Linked DNA regions of Homo sapiens. The protein of the gene in region 1 interacts with the protein of each later gene in a pairwise test. Each region holds a gene or a part of one and is shown on either strand. Other genes may lie near its edges. The genes, in order: TRAIP and POLH.

Region 1 (3,918 bases):
AGTTTCACTATGTTGGCCAGACTGGTCTCAAACTCCTGACCTCGTGATCCGCCCACCTCGGCCTCCCAAAGTGCTGGGATTACAGGCGTGAGCTACCGTGCCTGGCCTATCTTGTCTAATTTAAAGTCCATTTTATCTGCTATTAGTATAGCCACTTCAGCTGTCTTTTGGTGACTGCATGGTATATCTTTTTTCATCTGTTTTATTTTATTTTATTTTATTATTGTTTTTAGAGACAAGGTCTCGCTATGTTAGCCAGGCTGGTCTCAAACTCCTGGCCTAAAGCAATCCTCCTGCCTTGGCCTTCCAAAGTGCTGGGAATACAGGTGTGAGCCACCACACTCGGCCCTTATCCAACTTCTAGCTTCCGTTGTAGCTATTGAAGTCAGATTTTAGTTTATCAGTTACTCCTTTAAGCATACTTTGGAACTTTATCCTCAGACTCTCATTACCTTTAGAATTTTCTCTGATTTTGGCTTTCTGCAGTTTTGGTATAGTGTATCCAATATGAATTTCTTTTTACCTTTTTCTTTTCTTTTTTTTTTTTTTGAGACAGAGTCTTGCTCTGTTGCCCAGGCTGGAGCACAGTGGGACAATCTCAACTCACTGCAACCTCCACCTCCCTGGTTCAAGCAATTCTCCTGCCTCAGCCTCCCGAGTAGCTGGGACTAAAGGCACGTGTCATCATGCCCGGCTAAATTTTGTACTTGTAGCAGAGACAGGGTTTCACCATGTTGGCCAGGCTGGTCTCGAACTCCTGACCTCAGGTGATCTTCCCACCTTGGTCTCCCAAAGTGCCGGGATTACAGCCATGAGCCATTGTGCCTGGCCGAATTTCTTTTTACAAATTCTGCTCGGGATTCATTAGATTTCTTTAACGTGTAGAGCAATTTCTTTCTTTCTTTCTTTTTTTTTTGAGACGGAGTCTCGCTGTGTCACCCAGGCTGGAGTGCAGTGGCACGATCTTGGCTCACTGCAAGCTCTGCCTCCCGGGTTCACGCCATTCTCCTGCCTCAGCCTCCCGAGTAGCTGGGACTACAGGCGCCTGCCACCATGCCCAGCTAATTTTTTGTATTTTTAGTAGAGATGGGGTTTCACTGTGTTAGTCAGGATGGTCTTGATCTCCTGACCTCATGATCTGCCTGCCTCGGCCTCCCAAAGTGCTGGGATTACAGGCGTGAGCCACCGCGCCTGGCCGTGTGGAGCAATTTCTTTAATCAGTTCTGGAAAATTATCAGCCATTATCTCTTCATATATTGCCTCTATTCCATTAACTTTTTTATCCTGTGTTATTATTTATTTTTGAGGTAGAGTCTCGCTCTGTCACCCAGGCTGGAGTGCAATGGTCCGATCTCGGCTCACTGCAACCTCCACCTCCTGGGTTCAAGCAATTCTCCTGCGTCAACCTCCCGAGTAGCTGGGATTACAGGCGCTCGCCACCGTGCCTGGCTAATTTTTGTATTTTTAGTAGAGACGGGGTTTCACCATGTTGGCCAGGCTGGTCTTGAACTCCTGACCTCGTGATCTGCCCGCCTCGGCCTCCCAAAGTGCTGGGATTACAGGCGTGAGCCACTGCACCTGGCCTACCTAAAGTCTTTGTGGGCATTTCTTCTGGTTTGTTTTCATAGTGCTTTTTTTTCTTGTGTACCTGTTTACTTAAAAAAATGTTTTTTTGGCTGGGCGCGGTGGCTCACAACTGTAATCCCAGCACTTTGGGAGGCCGAGGCTGGTGGATCACGAGGTCAGGAGATCGAGACCATCCTGGCTAACATGGTGAAACCCCGTCTTTACTAAAAATACAAAAAAATTAGCCGGGCATGGTGGCGGGCGCCTCTAGTCCCAGCTACTTGGAAGGCTGAGGCAGGAGAATCGCTTGAACTCAGGAGGTGGAGGTTGCAGTGAGCCGAGATTGCACCACTGCACTCCCGCCTGGGTGACAGAGCGAGACTCAGTCTTAAAAAAAAAAAAAAGTGTTTTTTTGGCTAGGCATGATGGCTCACCCCTTTAATCCCAGCACTTTGGGAGGTGGCTGGATTGCTTGAGCCCAGGGGTCCAAGACCAGTCTGGGCAACACAGTGACACCCCATCTCTACAAAAAAGTGAAAAAAATATAAATTACCTGGGCATGATGGCCTGTGCCTGCAGTCCCAACTACTTGCAAGGCTGAGGCAGGAGGATCGCTTGAGCCTGGGAGGTTGAGGCTGCAGTGACTCATGATTGTGCTGCTGCACTCCAGCCTGGATGACAGAGTGAGACCCCATTTCAAAAAAAGAACATTTTAAAATTGAAGTATAATATAGTTCAGAAAAGTACACATATTCTAAGTATATGGCTTACAGAATGTTTACAAATTGAACATATCTATGCAGCCAGAATTCAGATCAAGAAACAGGGTATGGCTGGGCGTGTTGATTCACGCCTGTGATCCCAGCACTTTGGGAGGCTGAGGTAGGCAGATTGCTTGAGCCCAGAAGTTCTAGAACAGCCTGAGCAACATGATGAAATCTCTACTAAAAACACAGAAAATTAGCCGAGCATAGTGGCATGTGCCTGTGGTCCCAGCTACCCAGGATGCTGAGGTGATCATCACCTGAGCCTGGGAGGTAGAGTCAGCTGTGAGCCATGATTGCTTTACTGCATTCCAGCCTGGGTGACAGAGTGAGACCCTGTCTCGAAAGTCCCCCCACCAAAAAAAAAAAAGAAAACAGGAAAACGCAGGCTATTGGCCGGGCATGGTGGCTCATGCCTGTAATCCCAGCATTTTGGGAGTCCGAGGCGGGTGGATCAGGAGTTTGAGAGCAGCCTGGCCAACATGGTGAAACCCTGTCTCTACTAAAAAAATATAAAAATGAGCTGGGCATGGTGGCGTGCACCCGTAACCCCAGCTACTCGGGAGGCTGAGGCAGGAGAATTGCTTGAACCTGGGAGGTGGAGGTTGCAGTGAGCCGAGATCGTGCCACTGAACTCCAGCCTGGCTGACAGAGCAAGACTCTGTCTCAAAAAAAAAAAAAAAAAAAAAATGCAGACTATTATCAGCTCTAGAAACCTTCTAGAAACCTCCTTATATGCTCTTCCAACCCCTACCAACACCTCCCTCCACCTCCCCATATTAAGATAGCTACTGTCTTGACTTTGAGAGCATAGATGAATTTTGCCTACTTTTTTTTTTTTTGAGACAGAGTCTCACTATGTCCCTCACGCTGGAGTGCAGTGGCGTGATCTCGGCTCACTGCAACCTCCACCTCCCAGGTTCAAACGATTCTTCTGCCTTAGTCTCCCAAGTAGCTGGGATTACAGGCGTGCGCCACCACACCCGGCTAATTTTTCTATTTTTAGTAGAGACGGGGTTTCACCATGTTGGTCAGGCTGGTCTCAAACTTCTGACCTGATGATCCACCCGCCTCGACCTCCCAAAGTGCTGGGATTACAGACGTGAGCCACTGGGCCTGGCCTGCCTACTTTTAAACTGTGTAAATAGAATCATACAAAATATAACTTTTTGTATCTGGCTTCTCTTCCTCAGTGTTATGTTTTTGTGATTTATTCATAATATTGTTCTTAGCTGTAGACTCATTTATTCTTGCTGTGTAGTATTCCACTGCGCCTGGTTACTCTTGATTATATGTTGTACATGGTATTTGAAAACTTATGGGAATTTTAGCTGGGCATGGTGGTGCACGCCTGTGGTCCCAGCTACTCGGGAGGCTGAGGTGGGAGGATTGCTCGAGCCTGGGAGGCGAAGGTTGCAGTAAGCCAAGATCACACCACTGCGCTCCAGCCTGGGTGACAGATTGAGACCCCATCTCAAAAAAAAAAAAAAAAAAAAAAAAGAAAAGAAAAGAAAATGTACTTATAGGAATCTTTGAGGCCAGGATGATGGTATCATTTTCCAGAGAGGACTTAGTTTCTCCCTGGTCC
Region 2 (3,918 bases), on another chromosome or scaffold:
GTTTTCAGGTTCAGCCGTATTGTAGCATGTATTAGTACTTAGTCATTTTTTGTTTGTTTTGTTTTTGTTTTTTGAGACGGAGTCTCGCTCTGTCACCAGGCCAGAGTGCAGTAGTGCAGTCTCGGCTCACTGCAACATCCGCCTCTCCAGTTCAAGTGATTCTGCTGCCTTAGCCTCCCGAGTAGCTGGGATTATAGGCACGCGCCACCACGCCCAGCTAATTTTTGTATTTTTAGTAGAGATAGGGTTTCACCATGTTGGCCAGGGTGGTCTCAATCTCATGACCTTGTGATCTTCCTGCCTCAGCATCCAAAAGTGCTGGGATTACAGGCGTGAGCCACTGCGCCCGGCCAGGACTGACACCTTTTTATGGCTGAATAATATTCTATTGTATTAATATATACCATATTTTGCTTATCTACTTATTAGTGAATGGACATTTGAGTATATTTCCACTTTTGGCTATTATGAATAATGTTGATATGAACATTCATCTACAAGTTTTTGTGTAGACACCTGTTTTCTTTCCAGCATATACCTTGGAGTATAATTTCTGGGTCATATGTTAACTCTATGTTTAGCATTTTGAGGAATCGCCAGACTGTTTTCCACAGTGGCTACACCATTTCACATCCTTACCATCAATGTAAGAGGGTTCCAATTTTTCCACATCCTTGTTACTGACTTTTTAAATTTTAGCCATTCTAGTGGGTGTGAAATGGTATCTCATTATGGTTTGGCTTACATTCTCTGATAATCTTTTCATGTGCTTGTTGGACATTTGTATATCTTTGGGGAAATGTTTGTTGAAATCCTGTTCCTGGGCCGGGCGTGGTGGCTCAAATTTTTGGAGGCCGAGGTGGGCAGATCACCTGAGGTCAGGAGTTCGAGGGTAGCCTGGCCAACATGGCGAAACCCTGTCTCTACTAAAAATACAAAAATTAGCTGGGCGTGGTGGCGGGCACCTGTAATCCCAGCTACGCAGGAGGCTGAGGCAAGAGAATCGCTTGAACCTGGAGGTGGAGGTTGCAGTGAGCCGAGATTGCGCCATTGCACTCCAGCATGAGCAACAAGAGCAAAGCTCCACCTCAAAAATAAAAAAGAAAAAACAAAAATCCTCTCCCCTTTTTTAAATTGGGTTGTCTCTTTATTATTGAGTTTTAACATGTCCCTTGTCAGATACGTGATTTGCAAATATTTTCTCCCATTCTGTGGGTTTTCTTCTCACTTTCCTAATGGTATTGTTTGATGCATCCTCTTCTTTTGAAATGTCTTGGAGTTCTACAAGTCAACTGTACATGTCAAGAATAGTCCAAAACTGCTCGTTGCTCCTTTTTAGCTGGAATGGGTGGTAAATGTTTGTTCCTTTGGTAGGCATCATAAAGAGGGATTTGATCCAGTTGCGTTATCGCCCTTTTCCGCTTTTGCCCACTAGGTGGCACTTGTTTCTCATCTCTCTCTAAGTCCCTGGGGCCTTTCTTTCCACTTTTTTTTCCTAAGAGACAGGGTCTTGGCTGTCATCCGTGCTGGAGCACAGTAATACAACCTTAGCTCACTGCAGCCTTGTAGCCTCAACCTCCTGGGCTCAAGTAATCCTCCTGCCTTAGCCTCCCACAGTGCTGGGAGTACAGGCATGAGCCACTGTGCCTAGCCTTTTCTTCCCTCTTTGTATCCAGTGGGGATCCCTGAAAATCTATCTTTTAAGCTTCAAAGGACTTTATGCCAAAAATAATTCAGGACATAGCAGATCCTATCACTTCACTGTTTAAAACATTCCAGTGGTTTCCCTTCACACTTAAGGCATATTAAGGAATTTTTTAAAAGTAATTCTATAAAGCCAAATATAATCTAATTTCTTGCTACTTCTCTGACCCCATCTCTTATCTTCCCCTCACTTATTCTAGTCTCCACTTCACTGGCCTCCTTCCCTTTATCTAACACACTAAGTAAGCTCTTACTTTAGCACTTCCCGTTTCTTTGCCCTGGAGACTCTTTGTTCATATATTCTTAATATTTGCTTCCTTGATTTATTCAAATCTCTGTGCATGTATTACATTCTCCAGGAGGTCCTCCCTAGTTACCCTATCACAGCAGCAGCCTCCATCACTCTCTGCCTTATTCTGCTTTTCTTCATAGCACTCATCTCTGTGGTCATTTCTGTTACATGTCTATTTTTTATTATCTATAGTTCCTACTACAACATAGGATCCATGAGGACCTGGACTTTATTTTGTTCTCTCCTGCATCTCTAGGCACTGTCTAGGCATGCAGTTATAGTTGAATAATTTTGGTCAACAAGGACTCCTTTATAATTGCTAATTTGTATTCCCTCAAGATATATAAATCCATACAAATGTATTTTTTATCCAAAAAGTAGTTCCTGCTCTTAGCTTGTTTGCCTTAGGGATACTTCTTCTCACTAGCATCTTTTGATAGGGGTCCCTTATGTAGAATTTTCACCTTCTTATATTTCTGCCTCTTGACCATTATGTCTCAGTTTGCTGAGATTACAGCATTCAGATGCTTCAGACTTCACTGAAAAGTGAGTCATGATCTTGCTCTCTCAAGGCAGGCTCACTATATGGTATCTTCTCTAGATAAGCTGTAAAAAGGTGTTGGTAGAAACTTCTGGAATTGGTGGCGAATGTTTGTTTACCATAAGAGCCCCAGGGCAGAAAAAAAGATATGACTTGAAGCCTAGTTCCACTTTGCTTTCAGACAATTACTTACCTGAAACCTTCCTTCAGTCACAAAATAGTATCTAGTATTGTAGATATTTGTTATAATTGTCCTGCTTAGACACCATGAAAAACATTTAGGGGAGTCCCATTTTCATTTGTGCTGTCCTGTTCCCATCATCTGTCAAAACATCCTAGGATACTCCGATGTTCCATAATCCAAATTATGTCTTCTTCAGTTACTTTTTACACCCAGAAATAGCATTAACACTTTTTTGTGGAACCATGTAATCAGATTTCTATTCAGAAAATGCATTCTGTTGCATATATATAGATTCTTTTTTTTTTTTTTTTTTTTTTTGAGACAGAGTCTTGCTCTGTCATCCAGGCTGGAGTGCAGTGGCACCATCTTGGCTCACTGCAACCTCTGCCTCCCAGGTTCAAGCAATTCTCCTGTCTCAGCCTCCCGAGTAGCTGGGATTACAGGTGCCTGCCACCACGACTGGCTAGTTTTTTTGTATTTTTCAGTAGAGATGGGATTTCGCCATGTTTGCCAGGCTAGTCTCGAACTCCTGACTTCAGGTGATCCACCTGTCTCAGCCTCCCAAGGTGCTGGGATTACAGGCGTGAGCCACCATGCCTGGCCTCTTTCTCTTTTTTATATTTTATCTTTACTCTTTGCAGAACTCAGTTTACCTTTATTCTTGACTTTTAAACTACTGTTTCCAAACCATTGTCACCCTGGTTCTTTTAATTTCCTCTCCTGCAGTTCAGTACCTAGAATTCAGATGCTCCTCATAACTTTATTTCTGGTCTCCATCCTTTCCACCCACAGAATGACAGGGTAGCCACCCAGCTGGTTGTGAGCATTCGTGTACAAGGAGACAAACGCCTCAGCAGCCTGCGCCGCTGCTGTGCCCTTACCCGCTATGATGCTCACAAGATGAGCCATGATGCATTTACTGTCATCAAGAACTGTAATACTTCTGGAATCCAGACAGAATGGTGAGTTCTTTTCTAGCTCATCTTCTCAGAATAGATGATGATTCTTAGCTCTGTCTTAGCTCTACAAGACATAATTTTTATCATAAAGTTCCTCATTGTGTCTAATCACTCAAATTTTCACATGAGCTGAATTTCAGAAGATGAAATATGCTTTTATGTACAGATTAGTCCTTCAATGAGGTAAAGGGTAAATGTCATTTTAAAGTTATTATTAAAGTATCGGCCGGGCGCAGTG

The links.
Region 2: the proteins of TRAIP (region 1) and POLH interact in a two-hybrid assay, tested with the Homo sapiens proteins (one study listed by BioGRID).

The regions. Positions count from the first base shown.
Region 1 is NC_000003.12:49,849,753-49,853,670, reverse strand, and holds part of TRAIP (E3 ubiquitin-protein ligase TRAIP), read left to right. Parts: intron 1-3,918. UniProt on the Homo sapiens protein: E3 ubiquitin ligase required to protect genome stability in response to replication stress.
Region 2 is NC_000006.12:43,607,041-43,610,958, forward strand, and holds part of POLH (DNA polymerase eta), read left to right. Parts: intron 1-3,513; coding exon 3,514-3,683; intron 3,684-3,918. UniProt on the Homo sapiens protein: DNA polymerase specifically involved in the DNA repair by translesion synthesis (TLS). Due to low processivity on both damaged and normal DNA, cooperates with the heterotetrameric (REV3L, REV7, POLD2 and POLD3) POLZ complex for complete bypass of DNA lesions.